Homo sapiens: one gene and its partners. The protein of the gene in region 4 purifies or fractionates together with the protein of the main gene of each other region. This does not show direct contact. Each region holds a gene or a part of one and is shown on either strand. Other genes may lie near its edges.

Region 1 (6,359 bases), on a different chromosome or scaffold from region 4:
AGGGGTTTTCCTTTTAAGTAAAAGAAAAGGTCAGGAGTATGAAATCCTAAGCCCTCTTCCTCCCCCTATAAAACCCCACAGGTTCACTTGTAGAAAAAAATTGCAAATGGGGAAGAAAAATGCTTTTAGCTAGAAAAGTTAGTTTTGGATTTATGTATTCAGTAAGAGAACATGTTGAAGTTTTTATTAGATGCAAGAAAATGTCTCTAAAGTAAAATCCTTTGTGTTGACATTAGATTTTTTATTGTATTATAGTAACTTTATTCCAACTTTTTTTTGTTTAGCATTTAACAGAAGAGAAACCTGATGGCCTTATCAATGAAGCTACTAGGTATTCATATTTAAAGTATATATTGATTGCTGGCTAATTGTAAAGAGAAAAATCACTAAGATGAAAACCAAAAACAAACTAAGAAATTTTAAAACATAGTCAAGGAAAATTTATTTTCTTTTTTTCCCTTAGTTGAATTATTGCTATCTATTTATAATGATCTGATAACTAAACTTTTACTTAAAGTCATTTTTGTCGTAGCATAAAGTGAATGCTGAACACAGGAGTTCTGTAATTTTGAGGAACTCGGGAAATATTAACATTTAAAAATATTTTCTTGTTATACAATTTCTTTGGGATTGAAGATTTTATATATATATATATATGTATAATAATAATAATAATTATTATTTTTTGAGACAGAATCTCACTGTCACCCAGGCTGAAGTGCAGGCTCACTGCAACCTCCGCCTCCCAGGTTCAAGCGATTCTCCTGCCTCAGCCTCCCAAGTAGCTGGGATTACAGGCACCCGCCACCATGCCCAGCTAATTTTTGCATTTTTTTTTTATTTTTTTATTTTTATTTTTATTTTTTTTAGTAGAGATGGGGTTTCACCATGTTGGCCAGGCTGGTCTCGAGCTCCTGAGACCAGCTCGATCCACCCGCCTCGGCCTCCCAAAGTGCTGGGATTACAGGCATGAATCCACTGTGCCTGGCTGAACTTAAGTATTTTTGTAACTGTTTTCCTTATGAAAATATGGTTATTATAGAAAATATAAATAAGCCAAATAGAAAATAGCCAAATTGGATTTGTGATGTACATACTGTTGAAACCTGCTCTTTCAGTGAACTAAAGTGAATTTAGTTTTGAGAATTTAGTTGTATTCTTTGAGATAAAGCATAAGACCCTGAATAATTGAGGAAAATTGAAAGAATTTCCAGTTTTACTATCCTGCTAATAGAAAATAGAGCTTCTGATTATTATCATCTACTTTGTTATCTAGCATTCAGTCAACTGGATTCTTTACAGAGATAATATACAGTATATTTATAGTGATAAAGAAGACATTTGGGCAATATCCTGATATATCTTCTGAAGTATAGCTTATTTTTTTTTAAGAAATGGAGTCTTGCTATGTTGCCCAGGTTGGACTTGAACTCCTGGGCTTAAGGGATCCTCCCTCCTCAGCCTCCTAAGTAGCCAGGACTACAGGTGTGCTCTACCATGCCCAGCTCTGAAGTATAGTTTTAAAAAACCTGTTTAATACAGTTTTTAGTATTAAGTGAAGTTATTCTATTTCTTTGAAAATTTTGGTAAATATTACAGTATTTTAGTAGGTAAACTCTTCTTCTTTTTACCATATTGGATATCTGAATTTTATGCTTTTCTTCACAAAGAAAATTATGAGTTTAAAATCATCCTTTTGATTGTAAACTTTTTGAGACTTATCTTTGTAGCACAAGAGTAGCAAGTAACAGAACTTAGTAAATACTTTGCGAATGGGTAATGTGAAATCTGAACTTGCATAGTAATGAACACAATTCATCCACATTGAAAAATTAGCGGATTAGGAGTAAACTGAGTCACTCCTATAGAGCACTAGATAATTCTTAACTGATATATTGATCTACATGAGGCGTTTTTATTTATTTTTGATTTGTTAACATTCCTCTTTTGATGTATTAATCTGCATGCGTGTATATTATTTAAAGTTTCTTAACATTTCTCTGTTTGCTATTTTAGACAAGTTGCTTTGGCAGATGCCATTCTCATTAATAAAACAGACCTGGTTCCAGAAGAAGATGTAAAGAAATTAAGAACGACAATTAGGTACGAAATGATAAGTGTGTTAAGTGCCTACAGATCCATGTTGTATACACAGAATATTTTTTACTCTGATTGTTGCCCTGTAGAAACTTAAGGTATAAGGTTGAGCTGCTTCAAGAACGTTAGGGAATCACATATATTGTTGATGGCTAATTGTTATATAAATGGTAATACATAAAATTAGTCCCCAGTGCTTGCAGAATATAGTTCACAGTTAATAGACTGATATTCAGGGTCTTCGCACTCCATCTTTCTTTTCCTGTCTTCTCTTTGACTCTTTCCTAATGTCAGTCTTCCCTAACTTTACCCAGGATGGTTAATTCACTTTCCCATGGATGCATCCTGTCAGTTCCTGTCTTTACTCGTAATGTATTCTCACTCTGCCAATCCCTGAGTTCTTTCTTGTTCTGCTTTTTTTTTTTTTAATTTATTCTATAGAGCCTATTCTGTCTCTCCCCCCTTCCTATGTGAAGTCTTCCCTGACTCAAGTGGTCTCAGTTTTCCCTGAACTCTTGTTGACTTCATCTTCCTTAACTGTCAACCATGCCTTGTCTTCCAGCTTGCTTTAATATCTTCTTTGTCCATAGCCAAGGCTGATCAGCATAGGACAATCAGGACAATATGAATGATGCTCAAATATGTGCTAACAGTCATTTTGCTGACTGTTCTGGAGACTCCCATTCCTTTTGAAAACAAAGATGGGCTTTTCAAATGAGGTTATAGTTCAGGGGCTTTGTTTTGAATTATTTTGTAAGACCTGAACTAATAAAAGCCCTATACAGAGAGACATTCGGTAGCTATTAGTATTGGTTATCTTTAATGTGTACAATGCTTTGAGCGTGATGGCTCAAAATTACTATTCTTAGTATTTATAAGTTCTACTGACATTAGATTTTGAATCTGTCATCTCAGTTCATATAGTATATATTATCAATTGAATCAATAAAGGTAAGGCTCATTAGGAGATTATTTGCCATGATTAATGATTGTGGAAGAAAGAAATTCATATTTTTTCCACATATTTCATCTTATTTTAATAGTAATGTCCTTAAACTTTACTATAAAAAAATATAATGTCTCCACGTGGAGGGTAGGTATTGTTGCGTAGTGTTGAAGATCACAGACCTTGGAATCTGCTTGGGTTCTAATCCTTGGTCTGTTTCTCATTGTCTTCTTAGGGAGCTTATTTACCCTTTTAAAGCCTCCTCTGTAAAAGGCATAATGCCTATCATAAGTTTGCTTTGAGTATTACATGAGACAATGTTGGTAAACTTTGCACAGTGCTGACACATAGTAAGTGCTCTGTTAGCTATTATTATGTAATTTTTTTCTTAGCTTACATAGTAAGTTCAAGGTATAGTAAAAAAGGGAAGAAAGAAAAAGATGGCTGATTTTGAAAAGGAGAAAGTGATGAATGAAGATTGCTTTTACATTTTTTGACACTGGTCTTCTAATCTTGTTTCTCTTCATAAATCTTGTGCACCATTGTGATTGCTAAGAAGAACACAATCTATTTAGCAAATGTTTTTGGCATAAAAGGAATGATAATTATTACTTGACTTTTATATCCTTATAGAGACCTAAGCTAAATCTCTGACACTGACAATATTGACTATTAGCCAGCTTGTTAACAGTACTAGAAATGAATTTGGAAGAAGCAATTTGATAAATTACACACCCTTTTGGCTTTTACCCTCCCTTTATATCAGACTTGTGACTGACTCAGAATGATATTTGGGGAGGTGAAAAAAGGTAAACATGTTTGAGAGGAATTAGCCATCAGACTAGAGTGTATTCAAAAAAGAAGATTTAAGAATTTTGTAAAATAGTGGAGAGACTTGCCTCAGAATCATTATATGTGGGAAGCCTTACCCATGAGAACAAACTTGAACAAGTAGCAAGAATCTTGGGTAAGTAACCCTAAAGACAATTGAATTCATGATAGAGAATTGATGATTGATGATAGGCAATGGAAAAGATAAATAGATGAGGTGTACAGTGTGTTGAAAAGAATTTAACAGGTACTTTTTGGTGCCATACGAAGCCATATTCTATAGTATCAAAAGAGGGAGAACAGGCATAACGGGTAGAGAGCCTAATTAGGTAACTGACGAGGTTATTCTATAAAGGAACCTGGGATGTGTGACTTAGAATTACTGTGAATACTAAGGACAGGCTGGGGGCAAAGCAACTTGCAACTAGGTTTTTATTTTTAGTGTGTATATAGCCATTTCTACCATGTATGCCTGAGGAAAAAAGTGACCACCGTAAAAATTTTGAGTATCTACTCATTTTTAAGAACACTAGGATAACTGACTATTTATGAATGATTTTTTCTAAAGTGAAGTGTCTTTTTATTAACCACAAAGTAGCCCTTAATCTGACAGTTGTGCGAATTTTTGCATATATGTTTTATTAATGTATGAGTGGAATATATGTGATTTATTGTTTGAAGGAAAATCACAATTATTTTTTAAAGCAAGTTTTGTTTTTCTGTTTTTAATTTTTTTCTGGTTCCAGATGTATTTGGGTATGCTTATTTCCTGTTTTAGAAACAATATACTTTGTATACTTTTTTAAAAAGTTAATTTTTACTTTTAAACTTTGTCTTCCTCATTTATTATTTATTTCAGATCCATAAATGGACTAGGACAAATCTTAGAAACACAAAGATCAAGGTACTTTAAAAAAGCTATTCCTATTAATAACAAATCATTTTAGTTATTAATAATAAACATTAAATAATTGACAAATATGCTTGATTCTAATATAAGAAAGATCTAAGTGCATTTAAAAAGAATTGGATCCAAAATGTTGTTTGGAATGCTCTTAATAAGTTAGTTTGGCATATTTGGCTAGTACATTTGCCTGTCTTCAAAACTAAGAATACAAAGCCATGATAACACTGTGTAAGTGTTTGCTTAATGAGGAAGAAAAGACTTCCAAACACTCGAGAGGGTAACTCAGTACAGAAATCTGAAGTATATTGAGGAATCTTAATTTGAAGTGTTTAAATGGCTTTTTAATATTTAAAAAGCCTTCTTAGTGTTTTATAGTTGCCAAAAAATACATGGAGTCTTTACCTTGAAGTTCCTGACAAATTCTTTTATTAAATTTTGACTTTCATTTTCTCTAGGTTCTGTTCCTAAAACATCTGTGAAGTGTATTTCTGTAGATTAAATTCTGTTTTCCATTGAATGTTATCTTAATTTCAGAAAATTTCTGTGCAGGGTTATTTTATTAAGCTCATTTTTTTTTTTTTTTTTTTTTTTTTGGTGAGAAAGGCTCAGCAGCTAATAGACTCAGCAACAGGCAGCCAGGAGCTCTGAGGCTCACAGCTGGCAGTCTAGTTCCACTCAGTCTCTACTGGAGAAATTCTTTCTTTGGAAGTACAGCAGAGGCCTTAGGTGAGTGGCTTGTCTGCTATGGCAGAGATTAGAGGTGCTGCCAGACTGCCATAAGTGTTAGGCAGTAACAGCAGCAGCTGCTTATATGCATGTGAACAGCTGGGGAATTAATTTGGTATGCATTCTCAGGAGCCACTCATCTGCTGGCAGAGGTAGCAGAAGAATGCCCTTAGTGTAAGTCCTCTACAACCATACACCAAATGTGCTCCCTGCATTTCAAATTCCATTGTAGAAAGTCTCTGATAATCTCACTTATACTATGAGCCATTCCTCAGTATCTGTCCTCTTCCTGTTAGTGTTCTACAATTCCTTTCTCCTTAATTTTTCTCCGCTTTACAAAATGTCACACAGACAAGTGCATAATACTTAAACAAGCTTTTAAAAATAATGCTCATAAATAGCTTTGGTTCTGTCATAATATTCGTATTTATAAACATTTTAAGTCAATTCTCTTCTTTTGTTTTCATTTCAGAAATATCCATGTCCTGAATAAAAGTTGTGTCTTGATTAGTTTATTATGTAACAATTTAGTGTGTTTGACATTTCTAACTTTTATTTCTAACATTTGCTTTATTATAGAACAATAAACATGCAGTGATTGATTTTTCTTACTTCAAGTGGATGAGTGAGCAAGTGACTAAAATCTTCTGTGAATTATTCAGTGTATGGTGCTTGCCAGTGCATCTGAGAATCTAGGGACTTTCTGAAATAGTACTTCCTTGCTATGAGGACTGAAGTTGCATTAGAATCCTTTTCAATGAAGATCAGATGTCCTGAGTACAATTCTTACTATTGGGTCCTGAATCTTACATTAAATATTCTCTCAAATTCCTTGAGGCATAGCAACTTGAG
Region 2 (6,359 bases), on a different chromosome or scaffold from region 4:
ACCCACAGGATTCATAAACATAAGAAAGTGGCTGTTTTACACCTGTAAATTTAGGGTGGTTTGTTACACTGCAAAAGTAACTTGCCAGTTAAGACTTTTGATAGTTACTATTAATCACACAAAATGTTGACTCATCTGAAGCCTCAGAATTCCGTTTATCTAAATCGGTTACCAAGCTGACTCCTGACCATATTACGTTTATAAATTCCCTTTACTGCTTCAGACATAGATTTTGACACTTGCACTTTCCCTACAGTTTCACTTTATTAATCCAATATCTTGAATCTTTGCCTTCCTGAAATCTCACTATATCTCCAATTTGCTGACCACATCACCCTGACTCCCTGGCCTCTAGTCCCCAGGATTTGGTACCCAGTGACTAGAATGGCTTACATCCATCTTTAAAAACTGACCTAAATGGCAGTTGCTACATTATTCACAGATTGAGGAAACAAAAGAGAATCCAAGAGAGAAACAACTCTAGCTAAAGTCAAATCTAACTATATCTTTTCATAAAAGTCAAACCAATAGTCATTTACCTATGATACAAAGATAATCTAAAACAGTAAATAATGAAAGCATAGTTTATATTTGTCTATAATCTGCACTCTGTAATTTCTCACACATTAGCACCGTTTCTAAATATTTATTTTAATATTAAAATTATTTTATATTCTCCAAACAGCCACCAAATGCTAGTATGAGAAAATCAGTGCACGTAGATGGCAAAAAGGAGAAAACTGTTTAGGGAGAAAATACATCAAAAATAATTCACAATCTCAATGTAAGAACAAATGTCAATTATCACTTAAATAGTTAACATTATGTAACTAGTTCTCCTGGACTAGCCAACTTAGAATCTTAAATCGATGAACAGTAATAACAGTAATAGTAAAAATAACAATGATAGCATCTAACAAAAAACTAGATAGCAACTTTTATTTTTATGGTATTTCTCATAAAGACATAATCTTTTTTTAAATTTATAAAATAAGAAAGAAACATTACTTATAATTCATAATGCCAAAACATTTTTCTATAACATAAAAGCTAACAATCAAAAGAAATGGAGGTCAAAAGAAGGCTAGTTCATTGAGTCAGCTGCCAATATTACTTTACAGAAATAAACACTGGAATAATAATGGCCTCTTCATGTTATACAAATGACACAATTTATTCATATAAAGTTCTGATTAGTGCTCTAAATTGACCAGGTAATAAAATATGATGTGGGGGTAAATACCATTGTAATACTCAAAGATACTGTATCCACTGTAATAAATATACACATCAAAAGTCTATTTTTTTCCATCTAAAGACAGATCAAGTTATGAAGAAATTCTTTGGCTTATACAAGTTCTTAGAGATAAAATATATGATCAGCAAAAAAACATAGCTAAGTGTATAAAAACAGTGAAATGCATTTTATGGTTTCTATTTTGCCAACACAGTTACAGTTAACGAGAATTGTCATGACAAAATGATTGCTTTTATGAAAAGAACCTTCTTTATTACCAACCAATCAAATTTCATTTTTATTACTGATGTAAAAAAGTTCAAAACCATAATTCATTTATAGAGCGTACAAAAATAAGAAAAGTGTTCAAGAATAGAGGAGAGGATCATTTACAAAGCAATAAAAAATTAAAGCATGCATCCCTTTTACTGGCAAGGCAAATACTTCTATATATGAATGTCTATAGCTGGATTTACTGAATATTATAACTTCTGTCTTTGAAAAAAAAATGAGAAGCCTGAATTTTCAATATCTCATCTCTATTTGATATCTTCAGTCCATCTGATAACTGCTTATCAAGAAACTTCAAAAATGTTTGAAAAATATTAAAAAGTTTGGTGGCGTTTTCTTTCAATTTTCACCAAAATATGGCAAGCTTGGGCTAACGTTAATAACTCAAAAGTCTTCAAAGAAATAAGACTGACAAATTTTATGGGGCACCCATCACCAAAATCTTTTAAGTTAAAAACTAAAAATCATGTAATTTCAGAGTATAAAATGTTAATAAACCACATTAAGTAAATTAAAACTCATATTACAGCCTATGAACTATTTCATTAGCAGAAAACAAGCCTCTGAAGGGATCTTATTATCAAAGTTTTCAAAAATTTACATAATATTGCTGTTAAGAATTTAGTTTTGGCCAGGTGCAGTGGCTCACACCTATAATCCCAGCACTTTGGGAGGCTGAGGCGGGCAGATCACATAAGGTCAGCAGTTCAAGACCAGCCTGGCCAACATGGTAAAACCCCGTCTTTACTGAAAATACAAAAATTAGCCAGGTGTGGTGGTGGGCACCTATAATCCCAGCTACTTGGGAGGCTGAGGCAGGAGAATCACTTGAACCTGGGAGGCAGAGGTTGCAGTGAGCTGAGATCACCCCACTGCACTCCAGCCTGGGCAACAGAGCAAGACTCCATCTCAAAAAAAAAAAAAAAAAAAAAAAAAAACCAGTTTCAACCTATTCAGCAATACAGTATAATAAAATACAGGATCCACTGCTGTCAATAAACTATATCTTGCCTCTAGTCTGAAGTATAACCTATTTTGTCACTATTTTGCTTTACCATCTGCACCATTCAATCTCAGCTTCGTATCTTCAAGGTCATAAGCACAACTGTGTAAGATTATTCATATGACTAATATGTTTTTTTTTTAATTCTCTTAAACGTGACGGTCGGTCCAATAACTTTTTAATAATTCCTCAGTGCCTTCCTCAATACTGGAAAATCCTCAGAATACTGAGTAAAAATAACAAAATATCTTTATTTTCAAGAGCAAAAGATTAAAGGCTGGGCACGGTGGCTCACGCCTGTAATCCCAGCACTTTGGGAGGCCGGGGTGGGCAGATCACCTGAGGTCGGGAGTTCGAGACCAGCCTGAACAATGTGGAGAAACCCGGTCTCTACTAAAAATACAAAATTAGCCAGGTGTGGTGGCACATGCCTGTAATCCCAGCTACTCAGGAGTCTGAGGCAGGAGAATCACTTGAACCCAGGAGGCGGAGGTTGCAGTGAGCCAAGATTGTACCACTGCACTCCAGCCTGGGCAACAAGAGCGCAACTCCATCTCAAAAAAGAGAAAAATGAATTTAATGCATTGTATTTCTTCAATTATCTGTTGCAACTGTCATCATTAAATATTCTGATACATGGATATACAAGCCTTTACCATCATTTTCTTCATTGTGAGCAATAGCATCACTTCTATATTACAAAAGCCTTTAAACCTTTATTTTCTACTTCCTTTAGCCTCTGGAACTCTTCTGAATGCTTTTCAAGTCCAGATTCCCCAGTACTCATGTGAGGAGGGATGGAATGAAAACACTTTATTACCAATATAAAAACAAATTTTTAAAAACATACCTGTTTTAATCACACTTTCAAGATGCGTACATATGGGTTCCATGGAACGCTGCAAAACTACTTTCCTAGCTCATACTATAAATTAATGCTACTGCTTAAATGAAGTTATTAATAAATTTAAATAATTAAGCACCCAAATGCCCACAACGAGATAAATGGAATATTCCGACCATTCTTTTTTCATCCTTTATATAGTTTACTGAGCTTCTAAATAAAGAACAGAACAGATATTGTTCTTATTTCAAAAGATTAATAAATTATAGTATGATGAAACTAACTGATGTGCTTAAAATATGGCAAGGCACCGGTGGAGTAATAAATCAGAAAAGATGGTATATGAGTAAAGAAAAGTAAGAATACTTTGGGCATTTTCTGCTGTCCAAAATGGTAATGGGATACTACATGTTAAGAGTTAATATCCTCAAAGGACCCCTTACTATAAGGTGAAAGGCTCTTGGGCAATAAAAGTAACAATAGAAACTAACATGTACTGAACATTTATTATCTACCACCCTATACTAGATACTTGACATACATTATAAATATATTATCCCCTTTTACAAATGAGGAAACTGAGGACTAGAAAGGCCTGCCAACAAGAAGCAGGGTTGAGCTTACTCCAGCTCTTACTCCAATGACCTTGTTCCTAACCTTTATACTGAGTTTCAGTATTCTTATCCACAAAATACCTAACAAGACCAAATTGTTATTATTAGCAATTACGTATATAAATCATTTAACACAGTAGCTCAAAAGCTTACTCTTATTATCAATAACCAGCTATGGCAATTCTAATTAACAGACCGCCAATATGACCTATACCAAGATTCAATTTTATAATGAAAATAAACATGGCTGGAGCATATCAAATGTATATATCTTGAAATAAACATCCTGGAATAACAAATTATTCTAGGATACATTACTAAGTAATTTTAATAACTGCAATAACTGTATGTAGATACTTCATATTATTGAATTAAATTATCTGTTATTTACAAATAAATTTTTAAAGCTTTACCAAAATTGTATCTTTAAAGTAACACATTATTATTTTCACCATTTTACAAATGAGAAATCTCAGGCTTAAAAAGGCAGTTAATTTGCCCAAGTTCACACAGCTAGGAAGTAGCTGAATAAGAACCCAGGTTAGACCTTTCACTTCAAAATCCATAGAAAGTGTAAAAGCAACGTGAAGGAAGCAATCAACACTGCAGCCAATTTCTGCTGTTTAGTGCTCAACACCTCTCTCCCTTCTTTTGTGTATCTGGTGGCACTGTGGAGCCCTAATACCTGGAGCCACTCCTGGCACAGGGATGGGCAAGTGAGTTAGGCCTGTCCACCCAAGTACTCTACCCTTTTGGCTGCTCCAAATGCCGTCATGTAGCCCAAATGGGATTACACAACCCTCCCCTATGATATATTCATAACCAACTGACTGGAAGAACAAAATTAAAAAAACAAAATGTGAGTAATGTATTGAAAAATCTCTCCATTAAAAAAAGTGAAAACAAATATACAGGTTATAAAATATTTTTAAACTATTTTTAATAATATCCAGGTCTATTTTTATCCTTTTAAAATTCTAGGCCGGGCACAGTGGCTCACACCTGTAATCTCAGCACTTTGGGAGGCTAAGGCAGGCAGAACACTTGAGGCCAGCAGTTCAAGACAAGCCTGGCCAACATGGTGAAATCCCATCTCTACTAAAAATATAAAAATTAGCTGGGCATGGGGGCAGACACCTGTAATCCCAGCTACTCAAGAGGCTGAGGCAGGAGAATAACTTGAACCTGGGAGGTGGAGGTTGCAGTGAGCCAAGGTTGTGCCACTGCCCTCCAGCCTGGGTGACAAGAGTAAAATGCCACCTCAAAAAAAAAAAAAATTCTAAATCCAGCACATCATCATCTAGAGAAACAACTATTCATTCAAAAGCATAACTTACCATTTCTTTCCATATTAAGCTAAAAGAACAGTTCAAAATTATCTTCCACTTTAAAAAATATATTCCAAAAAACTACTGAACAGATGCATAAATATGTTTACGTAAGCACTGCTTACAACAGACAAAAATCACACACACGTGTGATGGCTTTGGGACACATCAGCTTACCTACACTGAATACACTTGCCAAAATTCCCTTTCTACTATGTCTCTAAAGTGGGCTACAAGGGATATTCTCCGCCAGGTGTTGGGAAGAGAAGAGAGGCAACGTCATTTTGTAGCAGACACACACTTCCTCCTAGCTTTTCTAACCCTAATCTAGGTGCTGCCATAAAGAGATTCTGCTGATATAATTAAAGTCCCTACTTAGTTAGCTTTACATTAATCAAAAGGGAGAGTATCCTAAGTGGCCTGATTTTATCAGTTGAAAGCCCTTTAAAAAAGGGTCTAAGTCCTCCCTGGGATCAGACACTCCAGGTAGTACCTGGTCTTGCCAGTGCTTAGTCCTGGATCTCCCCCGGCTCCTGACTGCCCGCCTTGCATGCTTTGCACTTACTTTGCCAGCCTCCACATTAAGAGCCAATTCTTTGCCATGTGTTTGTGTATGCACATACATGCATGTGTGTGTGTGGCTCGAGAGAGAAATAGATATCCTGGTACTTCTGCTTCTCTGGTTGAACTGACTGATAACAACTCTCTAAATACCCATCCGAGTAATACTACTTAAGTAAATTTTGGCTTCTTCATTACAATGAAATACTACATAACCATTTTAAAATGATGATGTGTAATTCCATTCACAGACATGAAAAGAGATCCCAATATATGACAAAACAGGTTACAAAAAATTATGCATATTATATGTCGATTTTTTTAATTCAGGGAAAGAGAATGAAATAGCTTTGCTCATCAAAGTTTTAATGATGGATGGAATTTTAAAGTCTTAATCTGTGTGGTATGATTTCAGGTAATTTTTACTTTATCTCTGGATTGTTTTCATTTTCCATAATGGCAACATATCATTATCATTATC
Region 3 (6,359 bases), on a different chromosome or scaffold from region 4:
CTCCCAAAGTGCTGGGATTACAGGCGTGAGCCACTGTACCCAGCTTATTTTATTGTATTTTTTTTTTTCCTGGACATTTTCTTTTTTTTTTTTTTTGAGACGAAGTCTCACTCTCTCACTCTGTCACCCAGGCTGGAGTGGAGTGGCAAGGTCTCAGTTCACTGCAACCTCCACCTCCCAGGTTCAAATGATTCTCCTGCCTCAGCCTCCCAAGTAACTGGGATTACAGGTGCCCCCCACAGTGCCCGGCTAATTTTTTTTTTGTAATTTTAGTAGAGACTGGGTTTTACCATGTTGGCCAGGCTGATCTTGAACTCCTGACCTCAAGTGATCTGCCCACCTCAGCCTCCCAAACTGCTGGTATTACAGGCATGAGCCACTGCTCCCGGCCTTCCTGAACATTTTCTGTTTGCAGTTGATTAAATCCACAGATGCAGAACCCATGGATACAGAGGACCGACTATGTTGTGTTTTTATTAAAATGGAATCCTTCTATACACATAGTTTATAGCCTCCTTTTTACACTTAATAGTATATCATGTAGTTTTATTCTGACAAGATTGGGAGCACTTTGTACAGTGTTGTTTTTTCCCTTCTTTTCTTCACATAATGTGCCACATGTAATCTCTTCATTTTGACCTCTTCATCTCTTCACGTTCTCAGTCCACTCCTTCCTGTTCCTCCCCTACTTCCTCCCTGGATGGTGAGCTCCTCTGGGATGCTGAGGTGCCTTCTTCACTGGGAGTCCAGATCAGGGCTGGGGTCAGCCTCAAGAGATTCTGGCCAGGAGCCCTGTGGTGGGGGCAGGGAGTGTGCTTCTGCTGCACAAGTCGCCTCTCCTTCTGTGGAGCCCAGAAGGTCCCCTCCCCCTTGCGCAGCCCCCATCCCGGGCATCAGGGCCTCGTGGGGGCCTCATGGTGCCATGTCTACAGGTGCCCTTTCCCACCATGGTGGCTCTGCTGTGCATGTGGTTCGGGATCTCCCTGCCCCTCGTCTACTTGGGCTACTACTTCGGCTTCCGAAAGCAGCCATATGACAACCCTGTGCGCACCAACCAGATTCCCCGGCAGATCCCCGAGCAGCGGTGGTACATGAACCGATTTGTGGGGTGAGTCCTCCAGCAGAGGCAAGAGCAGGGGAACGTGGAAGAGGGTACGCCCCCCTCCGCCACCAGAAGGGTGCGGCAACCAGAGTTCCTGCCGCTTCAGCCGGCTCTAATAGAGTTTATGAAAGCTTAACTTCACTCCAAGATCAAGGTGACCAGGTTGTAGGCAGACTTGGTGTCATCCTAGGAACCAGGACAAGGAAGGGGAAGGATGGAAGGGTATAGTGAGACAGGTTAAGACCATCACTTGGACCTTGGGCAAGTCACCCCACCTCTCTGCACCCCAGTTGCCCATCTATAAAATGAGGAGAATAATGCCCACCCTGCCTACCTCTCAAGAGATTATAATAGTACAGAAATATGCCAGAAGAATTAGCACCACCACACTCGTGTAGGTGCTCTCTCTTCATGCCAGCTTGGGAAGGAGCTTGGGGCTTCCTGGTGGCCTGGTCTCTAACAATGTCAACCTCTCGTTCTGTGGCAGCATCCTCATGGCTGGGATCTTGCCCTTCGGCGCCATGTTCATCGAGCTCTTCTTCATCTTCAGTGTGAGTACTGGTGCCTCCCCCACCCCTCCACCCATGCTAGCCGGGTCACTCCCACTCCACTCGGGTGCTCTGCTGCCTACTGCCTGAGAAAGTTCAGATGGGCCACTTCACCTCTCGGAGCCCCATTCTTCACCCTGAAATTGGACAACAGCCTTCCCTCTCAGGGCAGCATTGAAAGTGAAATGAGGCTGGGCGCGGTGGCTCACACCTGTAATTTCAGCACTTTGGGAGGCCGAGGTGGGTGGATCACAAGGTCAGGAGTTCGAGACCAGCCTGTCCAATATGGTGAAACCCTGTCTCTACTAGAAAATACAAAAATTAGCCGGGCATGGTGGCACACGCCTGTAGTCCCAGCTACATGGGAGGCTGAGGCAGGAGAATCACTTGAACCTGGGAGGTGGAGGTTGCAGTGAGCCAAGATCGCGCCACTGCACTCCAGCCTGGGTGACAGAGAGAGACTCCATCTAAAAAAAAAAAAAAAAATTTAAATGAGATATGTGGTGTGTGGGGAGCCTGGTGTGTGGAAAGGGGGACTTGGTAAATAGAAGCTGCCTCAGTGATACTTCAGTCATTCCCCACCATGACTAATAGCATCGTTGCACCTGGTTTCATTTCTGGGTCCTTGCACATCTTTACCTCTCTGTGTTACTCACAGCTCCTGGGAGGGTGGACAGAATGATTCCTGCTTGTCAGGGTCATTGTGAAGTTGGAATAAGTCATTGTAAAAATGCTTGACTTCAGGAAATGCTGTTGTAATGGTGATGATGACTCCTCCCAAAGAGTGCCAAGATGAAAGTTGGTAGGAAGGCCCTTCAGAGGCATGTAAGTGTGGCTGACCCAGCTCGGGGCCCAGCACAGATGGTACCTTGTACCAAGTCAGTACCGGACATGTATCTGCTATTCCAGAGTAGTGGCCCAGCCCCTCCCTGCTGAGACCACCTCACCCACACAGGTTTGCCTGGGAGAAGGGTCAGAGGAGGTGTTGGCTGCCCATGGTACCAAAGCCCATGTGCACTTCCCAGGGAAGCCCCCTCTGTTTCATCTGTGTGACTCTGGGCCAGTCACCAGCGTCTCTGATCCTTGACTTTCTTAGCTCTACCAGGCCAAGCTTTCATAGACACACACATGTAGCAATTGTATATGAGGCATGTGGCATAAGGCCTAGCGCTTGGTAAGCTGCTCAAGTGGTGGTGGCTGCTCTATAATTTTGATTTGGATAAGAATCATTATTTTCTACAAGCTGCTGAGTTCAGGCTGGGGTCTACCCAGAGCAGGTCAGTCAACCCCTGGCCCCTCCCTAAGGACAGTGTGGCTCACCCCCTGCTCTGGGGAAGAGGGGCCAGAGCCACATGCCAGGCCCACGGGCCCTGATGGTGTCATGATGATGTGTCCACTCCTGCCCTTGTGACAGGTTGGTGTGCCAGGGGAAGGGGAGCAGGGTGGTCAAGCCAGCTGAAGCCCCACTGTGTGTCCACAGGCTATCTGGGAGAATCAGTTCTATTACCTCTTTGGCTTCCTGTTCCTTGTTTTCATCATCCTGGTGGTATCCTGTTCACAAATCAGCATCGTCATGGTGTACTTCCAGCTGTGTGCAGAGGTGAGGAGAGCAGGGCCAGGAGGCGGGGGAGGGAGAACTGGATCCAGCATTGAACGGGTTGATGAGGCTCTGCGGAGAGGCTGGGTCTGGGCTCTTCATGTGGCCCCTGCTTCTGGCTCTGAGCTCTTGGGCCAGTACGTTGCTGTGCCTCTCCCAGCCTCCATGTATTCAGCTGTACCCTGGGCCTAATGAGATACCTTCCAGCTTAGTTGTGTGGGGTACTCACCACAGCTAGATGAAAGGACAGTAGATTTGCCAGTGCCAAGTCCACTCCAGTAGTAGTTTCTTCAACAGGCTGATGCACACTGGGTGGCCTGCCCTCCCTCTGGGAACTGGCCATTGGCAGAGTGGGTGAAGCCAGGGTTTGGGATGAACAGTCCCTCTGGGCTGGGACCCTGGCTCCTCCATGAGTAGCTCTGGGTCTTGGGCGGGTTGCTTAACTTCATGCCATCCGTTCCTCCTCCACATGATGGGGTGAGTGAGAGGACCTAACTTGGAGGGCTGCTCTCAGGATTAAATGAGTGGATTCATCTATAGCACTTAGAGTGGTGTTTGCCAGCCAGGCACGGTAGCTCACGCCTGTAATCCCAGCATTTTGAGAGGCTGAGGCGGGCAGATCACAAGGTCAGAAGATCGAGACCATCCTGGCTAACATGGTGAAACCCCATCGCTACTAAAAATACAAAAAGTTAGCCGGGTGTGGTGGCACGTGCCTGTAGTCCCAGCTACTTGGGAGGCCGAGGCAGGAGAATCACTTGAACCCAGGAGGCGGAGGTTGCAGTGAGCCGAGATCGCACCACTGCACTCCATCCTGGGCGACAGAGTGAGACTCCATCTCAAAAAAAAAAAAAAAAAAAAAAAAAAAAGAATAGTGCCTGCCACATGCTAAGCATTTGCTCGAGAAATGTTAATTATTTTTTTGTTGTTGATTTTTTTTTTAATGAGGTATAAACTGTAAAGTTCACCCTTCTTTGTCCACAGTTCTGTGGTTTTTAGAAATGCATACAGTTCTGGAACCACCATCACAGTCAAGCTGTGAAACATTTCCATCACCCCATATGTTACTGCTCTTACCAGAGTCTTCAGCCCCTCAAGCAACTGTGAAATTGGTAGGAAGGGGTTCTGCCCCAGGACAACACTGACCTTCCTCTGTTTCCTCCTCAGGATTACCGCTGGTGGTGGAGAAATTTCCTAGTCTCCGGGGGCTCTGCATTCTACGTCCTGGTTTATGCCATCTTTTATTTCGTTAACAAGGTACTGCCCTCCTTGAGGAGGTCCTCTTAGTCCTCATAGGGTAGGAAGGTCAGGAGGAGGATGCTGGGAGAAAAACCCAAGTGCCTGAATCTTCCTTTTCCACCCAGAATGGGGAGGACCAAAGCCACCTAGAACTGTTCCTGCTCTAGAAGATGGATCTTTTTAGGAAAGAAAGAATCTGTATTCTGTATGTTTGGGAGACAAAGGCCATCAGGATACGTGACAATGTGAATAATGCTTGTAAAACTTACGAGGTATAGCCATAGCCAAAGCAGGACTTGAAAGCAATATGTCACCTGCAGTGCTCTTCACAGGAAATAAGAGGGACTAATAACACCTTGAGAAAAAGGAAAAGATAAGAGTAACATGAAAGAAGAAAAGTAGAAAGGAGTTAATAAAGATAAAAGCACAAAATGCTGAAATAGTCTAAATAGTAGAACCCAAATTTAGGGCTGCAGGTATCCTGTCTCTGCAGGTGTTCTCTTCTTCACGCAAGTACTGTTCAATCCTGCAGAGTAAGGAGAGGATGGGAAAGTTTTTCACAGGCACCTCGGAGCCCTCCTAACTCTGTGACCCCACATAGGTAAAGTGTGGCCCAATAATAAGAGGGAGCCAGGCTTACCTGACTAGGGCAACTCACAGAGCTCATTGTCCCGAGAGAGAGACGTGGGCAAGAATACAGATGTCCCCACGACAGTTTTACTAGATTCATTCATGATACACAAACCAGATGAGCCATTGAGAGGAATTTGGAGGAGCCCTGTTGGGCCCCTCACCTCCAAAACTAATACTCAAGACTTACTCTGACCTGCTGTACTTTGGGTCTCCAGAGCCCAGAAGCAAGCAGTCCTCTGTGGCAGTCAGGCGTATTTGCAAAATAGAGTTGTAGGTCAGTTGATCGAAGCTGGGAATGCCGTTTCCCAAAAACAGTCAAGTTGGAAAAGACTGGAAGGATCATTTAGTGTAGTGCTGTACCCCTACCTCCAGTCTGGTGACTGTGCCCCTCTTCTCTAACAGTCTCAACAGATGATTCTCTAGCTCAGGGGTCAGCAAACTGCAGCCCGCGTGGGCCAGCAGGCCTGTTTCTATAAATTTTTATTGGAACACAGCCATGGTCATTCATTAACATATCTGTCCATGGCTGCTTTCACACTACAATGGCAGAGTTGAGTAGTTGCGACAGGGACCATATGGCCTGCAGAAACTAAAATATTTACAATCTGGCCCTCTAAGTAAAAGATTGCAGACCCCTGCTCTACTACATCCAGCAACAGAGAAGACACTCCCTCCTAACATTCCCATTCTTTCTGGACAGCTCCTGTCATTATCAAGGTCTTGATTCACACTGCAGTCTCCCTTGCTGTGACTTCCATCTTTAGACCTTAGTCTTAATTCTGGGATCATCTAGAACAAATCTAATCTCCCTCCTCTATAGCCCATATTAATCATAACTCTCATAAGTGGCAAGTGACTAAAACTCTATCAAAGTAGCTTAAGCAAAAAAAAAGGGAAAAAAAGTAGCTTAAGCAAAAAGAATGTATTTGCTTATATAACTGGAAAGACTAAGAAATTGGAGTTCTAGCCTCAACCATGCTTAGATCCAGAGTCTCAAAAATATCAGGGCTCAATCCCAGCACTTCGGGAGGCCGAGGAGGGTGGATCACAGGGTCAAGAGATCGAGTCCATCCTGGCCAACATGGTGAAACCCTGTCTCTACTGAGATACAAAAAATTAGCCGGGCGTGGTGGTGCACGTCTGTAGTCCCAGCTACTCAGGAGGCTGAGGCAAGGGAATCGCTTGAACCCTGGAGGCAGAGGTTGCAGTGAGCCAAGATCGTGCCACTGCACTCTAGCCT
Region 4 (6,359 bases):
ATCCCACAGAAACACCAGAGCCCCCTCAGCCAGGCCCACCCGCCTCATCCCACAGAAACACCAGAGCCCCCTCAGCCAGGCCCACCCGCCTCTTCCCACAGAAACACCAGAGCCCCCTCAGCCAGGCCCACCCGCCTCATCCCACAGAAACACCAGAGCCCCCTCAGCCTGCCCACTTCCTACTTTACAGCCTCCTTCAGGGCTGTCAGATTGGGAGCATTTTATCTTCACTTCCACAGCCCTCACGTCTCGGGGCTATGCGGCCCACTCACTCACAGGGACGTTGTGGGAAACCCTTTCCTTCTCCTCTGGGCCCCTCAAAGGCAACTGTGAGAGAGCTTTATTCCAGACCTAAGAGAAAGGCCAAGTTTTGTTTCCCACGAGGTTGCAGTGGCTTTTATCACACAGAAGGATGAGATGGTCTATGGTGTCAGCCCCTGAGCAGACACTGGGACTCTGGGAGCAAATGAGAGGCTCAGTCCAGGACCACAGGCTGCACCCCCTTGGCGGCCCTTCTGGTGTTAACCCTAACTTTGGCCTATCCCTCTGTTTTTTTCTTTTTTTAAAATAAAGTCTATATTTGGTTTTCAGTTGTTTATTTGTTGTTAGAACCACAAATAATCTGTGAAGTGAGACTTGTAAAAATAATTGAGTATATAATCTTAAAATGCATTAAAATACAAACCTAGACTAAATCACGCGCAAAAGTCTCGAAAACCCAAGGTACCTTTGAAAATCTGACCAGAGAGCTTTTAGAGAAGTTTAAAGAAAATGTTTAGTAACTTACAGTTGACAATGGCAATGTTTATTCCTCTGGCAACATTTCCCAGCTGTTCTCCCATAAGTCTGAAATGGAGCTAAGCATTAGTCAAGTACCAAGAGGCGTGCGACTCTCCCCGCTCCGCGAAGTCTTCGCCTGACCAAATGTCAGTCTCATCTGCTGTCCCCCACCTTTTCCTTGAAAGTCTGCATTCGCCTTGGTGCAGCTCCCGAGACCGCCACCCCCATGTTCATCCACACACATCTATTCTCAGTGTCTACAGACTCAGTCCCTCAGGGGACCTGGACTCTCAGGGGACCTGGACACTGCATTCAATCTTATAATTTAGACAAATGGCTAGGGGGAAGAAAAACTAACATTTATTTAGCTCAGGCTCTTCACAGATGCACTTTATTGTTAATTTATTATCTATTTATTTATTGAGACAGGGTCTCACTCTGTCACCCAGGCTGGAGTGCAGTTGTGCAATCGTGGCTCACTGCAACCTCTGCCTCTCGGGCTCAAGCAATCCTTCCATCTCAGCCTCCCAAGTAGCTGGAAGTACAAGCGTGCACCACTACAACAGGCTAATTTTAAAAATTTTTTTGTAGAGACGGAGTTTTGCCATACTGCTCAGGGCGGTCTTGAACTCTTGGGCTCCAGTGATCTGCCCGCCTCAGCCTCCCAAAGTGCTGGGATTATAGACATGAGCCACCATGCCTGAGTATGTCACTTAATTTTTAACCTTTAAATTGTAGAATATGAAATGCCAAATTCAAGAGGATTGTGCCCTAAAATCAGGAAAACTAAATGACTTACCTGGAGATGGTAATTATTGCTGAAGATCACAGAAATTGTGTGTGTGCATGTTGTATATGTGCATGTTCCCATTGTCAAGTGTCAGAATCAATGACATGTTAGCTTTATGAAAATAATTTGGAAGGCTTCCTCCTTTTTCCATGCTTTGGAATAGCGAACACGGAACTTTAATATTTTGTTTTGACACCTTTACCTAAACTCCCCTATGAGTTTTCTAGGCTTAGTGCTTTTTGACAGGTTTAGAGACTATTCCATAATAACTTGAAGCAGAAAGAGATTTCTGATAATAGAAAATCGGCTAATCTAAACCGACTTTCTCATGGAGAAAAGCAGAAAACATGAGGCAAGTTTTGTTGTTGCTGTTGTTGTTAAAGATCTGGTTGTATACGTTAGAGACCAAATAAGGTAGTTAAGAATTTCCCAGGCCAAGATCTGGGAGAAGACTAAATTTCAGGTTGGTAAGTCCAGCGTTTAAAAGCTACTTTTAACCAAGGAGAATTTGCTGATTCCAGAAAAGGTGTGTAAGGAAGTGAACAGCCCTTCTGACAACCATGTGAGCCAAGGGAACAGAAGTTGGAAGCCAGGGTCAGGGCCATGTTAAATCTCCCACATCTTATTTGGCCTGGGGTCACAAAGGGTTGAATCCTGAAAGTGAGAGCAAACCAGAAAAAAATCAGAGCTTGTATAAACTTCAGCCTAGTTTTTAGTCAACTAGGTGGCCCAGAAAATCTTTAACACTTATTCAGGTCATCCTGTTCTGCTAAAGGTTCCAGGTCCCTGGGAGAAGCAAAGATAATTCCTCAGAAGAAGATATCATCCCATGCCTCAATTTTTTTAAAAAACAGGTGCAGGATCAAATGAAACCTGACACGTGAGGAAAAAGGCCAACGCACACAAGAGACAATGGAACCAGCAGAAAACAGTAGATAATAGTGACAGACTCACAGGCACTCTAAATGCTAGAGTTATCCAACTCAGACTTTAACTATAATGTATTCAAAAACATGGTTGATAAAATTAAAAATTTCAGAACTGAAAAGTACCAAAACTGACATGCTGATTTTAAAAAGAACCAGAATGAATTTCTAAAACTAAGATAATATAGTAACCTAAAATCAGTAGTGATTGAATGGGTTTGACAGCAGATTAGGTACAGTGGGTGAGAGAATTAGTGAATGGAAAACAACTCTGTCCATGATAAAGAGCAGAGAGGTAAACAAATGGAAAATACAAAATAGACTATAGGCTCTAGAGACTATAGTAGTGATAAGGTCTAATATATGTTTCATTAAGAATCTCAGAAGAAGAGGAGAAAGTGAATGGGCAGAAGATACAAGAGCAGAGAATTTGTTAAATTTGATGAAAGACTTCAATACCTACCAATTTAAGAAACTCAAAAAAACTCCAAAGAAGATAAAACAACAAAAGACACATTGGAGTACAAATGTTGAAAACCAGACAAGGAATCTCTAAGGTGACGGGGACGAGGGCAATGGGCAGTTACTTTCACAGCAGCGACAATAAGACTGTCAGCTGACTTCTCAAAAGGAAAATATAGAACCTAGAAGACAGTGGAATAGTACCTTGAATGTGCTGAAAGAAAGTAATGGCTAACACAGCCTACAAAAGTATTTTTCAGGAACAAAGATGAAATAAAGATATTTCAGAGAAACGTAAACTGGAAAGATTCACTATCAGCAGACCACACTATTTTTCAGGTATGAAGGTGAAGTAAAGATATTTCAGAGAAACATAAACTGGAAGAATTCACCATCAGCAGAACATGCAGGAGGGTTTGCTCTGTGTCTTTTGCTGTAAGAAAACTTACCTATAAGTGTAACCTGTTATTGGGTCTTAGGAATTTTTCTAGAGTATCACTGAATTTGAGGCTAGTTGTGAGAATCCTTCTTCAAAAAAACACTCAACAAAAATGTATGTGCATGTGCACCAAGAGACATAAACAGCACTGTTCATAATAACCCCAAACTGGGAATGACTCAAATGTCATTCAACAATAGAATGGATAACTGTAACATATTCATGCAATGCAGTATCATACAGCAATGAACATCTAAGAACAACAGCTACATCCAACGTGAAGGATAAATCTCAGACACAAAAGAGTATTTGGTTTATGATTCCACTTATACAAAGTCCAAAACAGACAACATTAAACAAGTGTTGAATTAAATAACAGTATTTTGCAATGCATGCTTAGGCAGTAAAACTACCAAGAAAAGTGAGGAAATAAATCACCACCAAAAAAAATCCAGGTTACCATTGGGCAGGAAGGAAAGAGGAAGCTGCATTTCAGAAGGGGTACACAGAGGGCTTATGGGGTGCTAGTGATAGTCTATTTCTTAGCCAGGATGGTGGTTACACAACTGCTCGCCTTATCATAATTTATTACAAAATGATATATTCATAAGGTTATTTATTGCAGCATTACTGGTAATACCAAAAGATATCAAACATCAGAAATGCCTATCAGTGCAGAACTAGTTGAATAAACTATGACACATCCGTGCTATGGAATACCACATATCAATAAAAGAAATGAGGAAAAGCCTGATGTACTGATATGGAGTAATCTCTATTAACTGTTAAGTGAAGAAAGCCAAGGTCATAACTGTGTATAGAGTTTACCACCTTTTATGTAAGAAAGGATATAAATGTGTGTGTACATATGAGTGTATACGTGTATAATGTGTATATACACATATGCACACATATTCATACACACATATACATATATTCACATGTATACATGCATATATATACCTGTATATAAAAATATACATAGGTATGTATTAATTTTATATATATATATAGCTTATTTTTTGCCATTAAGAAATACTGGAAGAATAAATCAAAAACTAATTAAAAAATTAATGGAGATGGGAACAAGAGGTGGGGAGAAAAGGTGGAGAATACAGGGAAGATTTCTCTGAGCCTCCTTTTTTGGGACATGTAATATTCAAACATAATGTTGATTTCTGAACCAAATAAATATATATTCAAAAATTAAATGAAACCCAAAGAAAAACAAACCTAGCATTGAAAGCAAATGGAAATTAATTCAATGTAAAATAACTACAGGGAAAGTAATTATTTCATATGACTTTGGTCATTGCTATGAGTTGAATGTTTGTTACCTCTCAAACTCATGTGGAAATAGCATTAAGAGGTGGGACATTTAGGAGGTGATTAGGCCATGAGGACTCTGCCCTCCTGAATGGATTAATGCTGTTATCACAGGAGTGAATGGGTTCCTTATAAAAGGACAACTTTGGCTGGGTGTGGTGGCTCATGCCTGTAATCCCAGCACTTTGGGAGCCTGAGGCAGGCAGATCATGAGGTCAAGAGATCGAGACCATCCTGGCCAACATGGTGAAACCCTGTCTCTACTAAAAATACAAAAATTAGCTGGGCATGGTGGTGTGCGCCTGTAGCCTCAGCTACTCAGGAGGCTGAGGCAGGAGAAGCGCTTGAACCTGGAAGGCGGAGGTTGCAGTGAGCCGAGATGGCGCCACTGCACTCCAGCCTGGTGACAGAGTGAGACTCTGTCTCAAAAAAAAAAAAAAAAAAAAGACAACTTCAGTCCCCTTTTGCCTCTCTCTCTCTTTCTGCTGGAACTGGGACACCCTTCTACTTCTCCTACCTTGAACATGAGAACTTCAGGCTCCCCCGCCTTTAGACTCCAAGACTGATACCAGCAGACCTCCCATCTCCTATTGATTCTCAAACTGAGAATTACACCATCTGCCTCTCTGGTTCTGAGGCTTTAGTACTTGGGCTCAGCCATGTTACCAGCATCTCAAGGTCTCCAGCTTGCAGATGGCCTGTCGTGGGACCTCTTGGCCTCCATAATTGCATGAGCCAATTTCTCTAATAAATAAATCCACTCTTTCCTTTCTCTTCTTACCTCCCACTGCCATTGGCTCTGTCTCTCTGGAGAGCCTTGATTAATATAGACATCTGACTCTTTATAACCTTAATAAAATATTTTTAAATCTATGAGGAACTGCAAACAACATTTTTTAACTTCACTCAGTAGTTGTATTGTTAGTAGTCTTGGTATTGTAATTTGAAGGCGAAGGTTAATAGTACTAGGAACCAAGATTCTCAGTGTAAGGGAAGAGTTAAAATGTAAAATCGAAGAACTTAAGGGGGTAAGACTCCTGCACTGTTGAATTTGAATTGTAAATGCTAACGTAAATTCATGATTTAGAAACAAATGCATTGCTTGGTTCTGTCCACTAAAAGTGCTTAGGAGGAACCCTATCAAGGGCCCATGAGTGTCTAGATCTTGGTTTCTAAATACCACATCCCATTAAGGAACTCTCTCTTTAGAGAAATGGCTGATTTCAGTCTGAACAAAGAAAGACTCGGCTGAGTTTAGCTATGCTGTAAATCAAGGAAGCACTAAAACAAAATAAATAAATAATAAAAAAATAAAAATGGGGCCCACTCAAGAAGAAACAGATAACTTAAGTAGTGCTGTACTTATTACATCAATTAAATTTGCAGTTAAAAACCTCAAAACAAAACCCTCCAGGCCAGGACGACTTTGTTGGGAAATCACACCAAATATTTAAAGAAGAAATAATATCAATCTTATATGGATTTTCCCAAAATATTGAAGAAGTGTAAAGTATGGACTGCAAACAGAAACAACACCTGCTTTAATCCAGGAAGGTGAGGATCATAAAATAAAACGAAGAAACTATCGGCTGAGTTTTCATGTTCCCATGACTTTGAAGGACTTTGCCACATATTC
Region 5 (5,620 bases), on a different chromosome or scaffold from region 4:
AGAAGTCAGTCTCTACTGGAACATTAGCATTTGATAACAAGGGGTATCAAACATGTTACCCACGTTTGGACATGTTTTTGGCAGTTCTGATAGTCACAGTCTTTGGAATAATCTCTTCTTGTTTTCGTGCTCCTCCATTTCTGTCAGCACGTGCCCCTTGAGCAAATGTAAGCCCTGTACTTGTAGGTTGCACAGCTACAAAATGCCAGGGCCTGTTCATCACGCTTCTGTCAAGTGACTCCCTTTTACGTTTATTTTCTTCTTAAGGTATATGAGATCTTCTACTAAAGAATGAGGTGAACCTTTTCTGACTAAAACTTACACATCAACCTTGAAAACATCAATATGAAATAAGGAACTGTCTTTTTCGTTTTTTGTTTTTTGAGACGGAGTTTCACTCTTGTTGCCCAGGCTGGAGTGCAGTGGTGTAATCTTGGCTCAGTGCAACCTCCGCCTCCCGGGTTCAAGCAATTCTCCTGCCTCAGCCTCCCAAGTAGTTGGGATTACAGGCGCCCACCACCACGCCCAGCTAATTTTTGTGTTTTTAGCAGAGATGGGGTTTTACCATGTTGGCCAGGCTGGTCTCAAACTCCTGACCTCAGGTGATCCAGCCTCCTCTGCCTCCCAAAGTGTTGAGATTACAGGCGTCAGCCACCACACCCAGTCCAGAACTGTCTTTCAAAATTGTAATTACAGCAAGAATCCCTCTTCTTCCTCCGATCTACAGGAAACAGTGGAGGGAGTCGCTATATTGCAGGAGGTGGAGGTACTGGGAGTATTGGAGTTGGACAGCCCTGGCAGTTTGGTGGAGGAATAAACAGTGTCTCTTACTGTAATCAGGGATGTGCGAATTCCTGGCTCGCTGATAAGTTCTGTGACCAAGCATGCAATGTCTTGTCCTGTGGGTTTGATGCTGGCGACTGTGGGCAAGGTATGTTTACTGCCAAACAAATAAGAATGGGAGCATAAAACATCCTTGACAGGTAGAGAGAGTTTTGAATGGCTTTTGTTATTTAAAATAATGATTCTCTGTGTATCCCTTTACCAGCCTTGCATTCAAACTAGTTATGAAAGTAAGAGAACAACATAAATCACTGAAGAGGATCTTTTCCTGTTATTGTTGCAGTCTGGTGTTTTGTTTTGTTTTGTTTTGTTTGGACCAAGCAGATTTACCTTAGCTGAAAATATGTGGTGAAGTTTTAATTTGGAAACAAAAAAGGATATCAATAATTCATTAAATAAAGATGGTTCAAACACTGGATTTTGTTGATAGCGTATTAATGGAGTTTGTTTTGGCAGAAAGTTTTTTTCAAATGGATAAAAAGATGGAAATTGATTATTGTAATTTATTGTTAAGAACCATGCCATATCTCTATAGTGAGTCAGGATCACTATTTCATGGTAATTATTGTGACTGCCTCAGATAGTGAAATAAGCCCTATACCAGTAACTGTTGTATTAGGATATCTGATTATTTTGAAATTAAAGTCACTCTTAGAAAGTGAAAACTCAGTGCCTACTTCAGCAGCACATATACTAAAATTAGAACAGTTTAGGCATTAGCATGGCCCCTGCACAAGGACGACATGCAAATTCATGATGCATTCCCTATTATTTTTTTTAAAAGAAAGTGAAAACTCAGACTCAAAGAATTAAAGGAAAACAGAGGAAAAATGCCCAGTTAAAAAAAAAATCATGTTTCTGTTTTTTCCTCTAGATCATTTTCATGAATTGTATAAAGTGATCCTTCTCCCAAACCAGACTCACTATATTATTCCAAAAGGTGAATGCCTGCCTTATTTCAGCTTTGCAGAAGTAGCCAAAAGAGGAGTTGAAGGTGCCTATAGTGACAATCCAATAATTCGACATGCTTCTATTGCCAACAAGTGGAAAACCATCCACCTCATAATGCACAGTGGAATGAATGCCACCACAATACATTTTAATCTCACGTTTCAAAATACAAACGATGAAGAGTTCAAAATGCAGATAACAGTGGAGGTGGACACAAGGGAGGGACCAAAACTGAATTCTACAGCCCAGAAGGGTTACGAAAATTTAGTTAGTCCCATAACACTTCTTCCAGAGGCGGAAATCCTTTTTGAGGATATTCCCAAAGAAAAACGCTTCCCGAAGTTTAAGAGACATGATGTTAACTCAACAAGGAGAGCCCAGGAAGAGGTGAAAATTCCCCTGGTAAATATTTCACTCCTTCCAAAAGACGCCCAGTTGAGTCTCAATACCTTGGATTTGCAACTGGAACATGGAGACATCACTTTGAAAGGATACAATTTGTCCAAGTCAGCCTTGCTGAGATCATTTCTGATGAACTCACAGCATGCTAAAATAAAAAATCAAGCTATAATAACAGATGAAACAAATGACAGTTTGGTGGCTCCACAGGAAAAACAGGTTCATAAAAGCATCTTGCCAAACAGCTTAGGAGTGTCTGAAAGATTGCAGAGGTTGACTTTTCCTGCAGTGAGTGTAAAAGTGAATGGTCATGACCAGGGTCAGAATCCACCCCTGGACTTGGAGACCACAGCAAGATTTAGAGTGGAAACTCACACCCAAAAAACCATAGGCGGAAATGTGACAAAAGAAAAGCCCCCATCTCTGATTGTTCCACTGGAAAGCCAGATGACAAAAGAAAAGAAAATCACAGGGAAAGAAAAAGAGAACAGTAGAATGGAGGAAAATGCTGAAAATCACATAGGCGTTACTGAAGTGTTACTTGGAAGAAAGCTGCAGCATTACACAGATAGTTACTTGGGCTTTTTGCCATGGGAGAAAAAAAAGTATTTCCAAGATCTTCTCGACGTAAGTAACATCCAGCCTCATTCTTTCTCATGCTCAGGAAGAGTAAATAATCTCATGATAATATCATTATAGCTACCATTTATTCAGCACTTCCCTGTGCCGGCCATGGAACTAAATGCTTTTCTTACATGGTTTCATTTAATTTACCCAATAACCCTAATAATAAAAAATGTCATATGAAGGTATTTATTATTGCTGTCCCCATTTTGTAGTTTAGGAAACAGCCCAAGTGTGAATGAGTAAGGGATTTAGCCAGGGGCGTACTTGGAGGAAGGAGAGTGGGAAGTGGCATGTTGTCTTGTCTTGACATTTCAGATATGGTATTTTTCCAGCTTTACTGATGAAAAACCCTGAAGTTCAATTAAGTTCATTCGCTTCCCCAACATTATAACAGCAAATCAGTGTGAGCCAAGCCTCAAAGTTGGACTGCTCGTTGCCCTGTACCATGGCTTCACTGTGCTGTGGTGTCATCTGTACCTCTCCTCAGTGCTCTCACGGTGCTAACCACTGGGGAATGCAAGATGACGGGAACATAGCCACTGCTCATGTGGAAACTCAGGGACCAGTAGAGAAGACAAATTTGTGGGGAGAAAACTGTAGCAAAGAGATGTGTCTGTGTTGAGATATGGGCAAGAAGTTCAGAGGGAGGACTCCTTAGCTCTGCCTAGAAGTACTAGGGAAGGCATACAGAAGGAAGTGCCCTGTGGACTGACCTTCGAAGGGGTGGGAGTTGACAGACCAAAAAAAAAAATCATACAGTCTGGGCTGAATAGTGAAGGCACACAGCCACGAGTGGGTGTTAGGCTGGGAGAAAAGAGAGTGAAGGAGGAACTATGTCCTCAGCATTTTAGGAAGTATCTTGTGCCTTGCACATGAGGCATTTACAGATTGTCTAGTGAAGGACTGCAGTGTTCTTGACTATGTTTATTTCCTCAGTTTCCCCCATTTTCTTTCCTTTCCTTTCTTTTTTTTTTTTTTTTGAGATGGAGTTTCGCTCTTTTTCCCAAGCTGGAGTGCAATGGCGTGATCTCGGCTCACTGCAGTCTTTGCCTCCCAGGTTCAAGAGATTCTCCTGTCTCAGCCTCCTGAGTGGCTGGGATTACAGGCATGTGCCAGCATGCCTGGCCAATTTTTTGTATTTTTAGTGGAGACGGGGTTTCACCATGTTAGCCAGGCTGGTCTCGAACTCCTGACTTAAGGTGATCCGCCCGCCTCGGCCTCCCAAAGTGCTGGGATTACAGGCGTGAGCCACTGTGCCTGGCCTCTGGCCTCTTTCCTTTTTTTTTTTTTTTTTTTTTAAATTTACAAAAGCATTATAGGCTAGTAGTAAAAATTGCAAACAATTCAAAAATATACAGTAAATAAAGGAAAGTTCTTCCTTCTTCAGTCTCCTTCCCGGAGATAATTGCTGTTAATAGTTTGATGGGTATTCTTCCAGTATTTTTCTATAGCTATGCAAACATACCTATATGTATGTATAGTTATATATAGAGAAATATATGTATAGTGTAAATTTACATATATTTCCCTGCAGTTGCCTTTTGATGTAGTAGGATGTGGGCAAATGCCATTATTTATTTATTTATTTATACCCATGCCAGTGCCATTATTCTTTTTAATGGCTGCAGGTTAGTTATTTCCAATGTTTTGTGATTACAAATAGTGTTGCAGTGAATTCTCTTGTACATATATCTTACATTTCAGTGAGTTTTAGTTCTGCAGGTAGAATTACTAGCTTAGCAGGTATAAACTTTAAATATGTCTTTCTGAAATGTTGCACCACTTCATATTTCCACAAACAGTATACAACAGTGCTTGTTTCACTGCAGTCTAACCAACACCAGTTAATATCAGTCTCCTTACATTTTTATTTTTATCAGTTTGAGAAGCAAAAATATTTCTGTAAAGTGTTTGAATGCTTTGCCAATTTTCTTTGCCTATTTAGTTCTGCCACTGACTGGTTTTGATTTTATAATATTAAAACTATTATAAGATGAAACCAAATTTGTTTCTAGTCCTTGCGCTTAAAACTCAAGGACTTGCACATTTGATATCACCTGCAGAAATAGCTTGATATTGAAAGTACTATCAAATGTATATGTACATAAATTTTCTAAATGTTGCATTGAATTAGCTTTGACATCTCACAGTCAGTGACCAGTCCTTGAAGAATACCCTCCATATGTGACTGTTGTTATGTAGATCTCCATCGTACAGCTGTTGTTCTCAAACCAACATTGGTGATACTTGCACTGAAATCCAGTTGAGTCCTGCTAAGTCCAGTTTAGATCCTTAAAGTGACCCGTTAACATGTATTTCATTTGCTCCTAATGAAGAGTTCGTGACTAGTTATTACCACATTATATAAAATGTCTTGTAACAAAGTACACTTGTGCACTAAACATAATGCTGAGTTACATGTAGAATTCTCTTTTCAGGAAGAAGAGTCATTGAAGACACAATTGGCATACTTCACTGATAGCAAAAATACTGGGAGGCAACTAAAAGATACATTTGCAGATTCCCTCAGATATGTAAATAAAATTCTAAATAGCAAGTTTGGATTCACATCGCGGAAAGTCCCTGCTCACATGCCTCACATGATTGACCGGATTGTTATGCAAGAACTGCAAGATATGTAAGTCTTGCTCGTGTTTGAGTTGTTTGCTTGTGTTCAGAACTAAGGCTACTTGAAATGTGCATATTTACCATGCTAAATTTATAGCTCTAATATTTGATGACTAATATGTTAAAGGTATTATCTAAGTGAGAAAGAAAAAAGTCCATCTCTGCAAATGTT

The links.
Region 1: the proteins of FAM3B (region 4) and ZNG1A purify together in Homo sapiens (affinity purification with mass spectrometry; one large-scale study listed by BioGRID and IntAct). This does not show direct contact.
Region 2: the proteins of FAM3B (region 4) and MTX2 purify together in Homo sapiens (affinity purification with mass spectrometry; one large-scale study listed by BioGRID and IntAct). This does not show direct contact.
Region 3: the proteins of FAM3B (region 4) and TM9SF4 purify together in Homo sapiens (affinity purification with mass spectrometry; 2 studies listed by BioGRID and IntAct, with this or other methods). This does not show direct contact.
Region 5: the proteins of FAM3B (region 4) and GNPTAB purify together in Homo sapiens (affinity purification with mass spectrometry; one large-scale study listed by BioGRID and IntAct). This does not show direct contact.

The regions. Positions count from the first base shown.
Region 1 is NC_000009.12:150,453-156,811, reverse strand, and holds part of ZNG1A (zinc-regulated GTPase metalloprotein activator 1A), read left to right. Parts: intron 1-284; coding exon 285-331; intron 332-2,016; coding exon 2,017-2,103; intron 2,104-4,733; coding exon 4,734-4,778; intron 4,779-5,384; exon of another isoform or gene 5,385-5,507; intron 5,508-6,086; coding exon of another isoform or gene 6,087-6,105; exon of another isoform or gene 6,106-6,359. UniProt on the Homo sapiens protein: Zinc chaperone that directly transfers zinc cofactor to target metalloproteins, thereby activating them.
Region 2 is NC_000002.12:176,274,149-176,280,507, reverse strand, and holds part of MTX2 (metaxin-2), read right to left. Parts: intron 1-6,359. UniProt on the Homo sapiens protein: Involved in transport of proteins into the mitochondrion.
Region 3 is NC_000020.11:32,156,862-32,163,220, forward strand, and holds part of TM9SF4 (transmembrane 9 superfamily member 4 isoform 1 precursor), read left to right. Parts: intron 1-932; coding exon 933-1,108; intron 1,109-1,589; coding exon 1,590-1,653; intron 1,654-3,130; coding exon 3,131-3,250; intron 3,251-4,414; coding exon 4,415-4,504; intron 4,505-6,359. UniProt on the Homo sapiens protein: Associates with proteins harboring glycine-rich transmembrane domains and ensures their efficient localization to the cell surface.
Region 4 is NC_000021.9:41,338,963-41,345,321, reverse strand, and holds part of FAM3B (protein FAM3B isoform a precursor), read right to left. Parts: intron 847-6,359; coding exon 788-846; intron 1-787. UniProt on the Homo sapiens protein: Induces apoptosis of alpha and beta cells in a dose- and time-dependent manner.
Region 5 is NC_000012.12:101,761,402-101,767,021, reverse strand, and holds part of GNPTAB (N-acetylglucosamine-1-phosphotransferase subunits alpha/beta precursor), read left to right. Parts: intron 1-727; coding exon 728-931; intron 932-1,717; coding exon 1,718-2,820; intron 2,821-5,258; coding exon 5,259-5,458; intron 5,459-5,620. UniProt on the Homo sapiens protein: Catalyzes the formation of mannose 6-phosphate (M6P) markers on high mannose type oligosaccharides in the Golgi apparatus.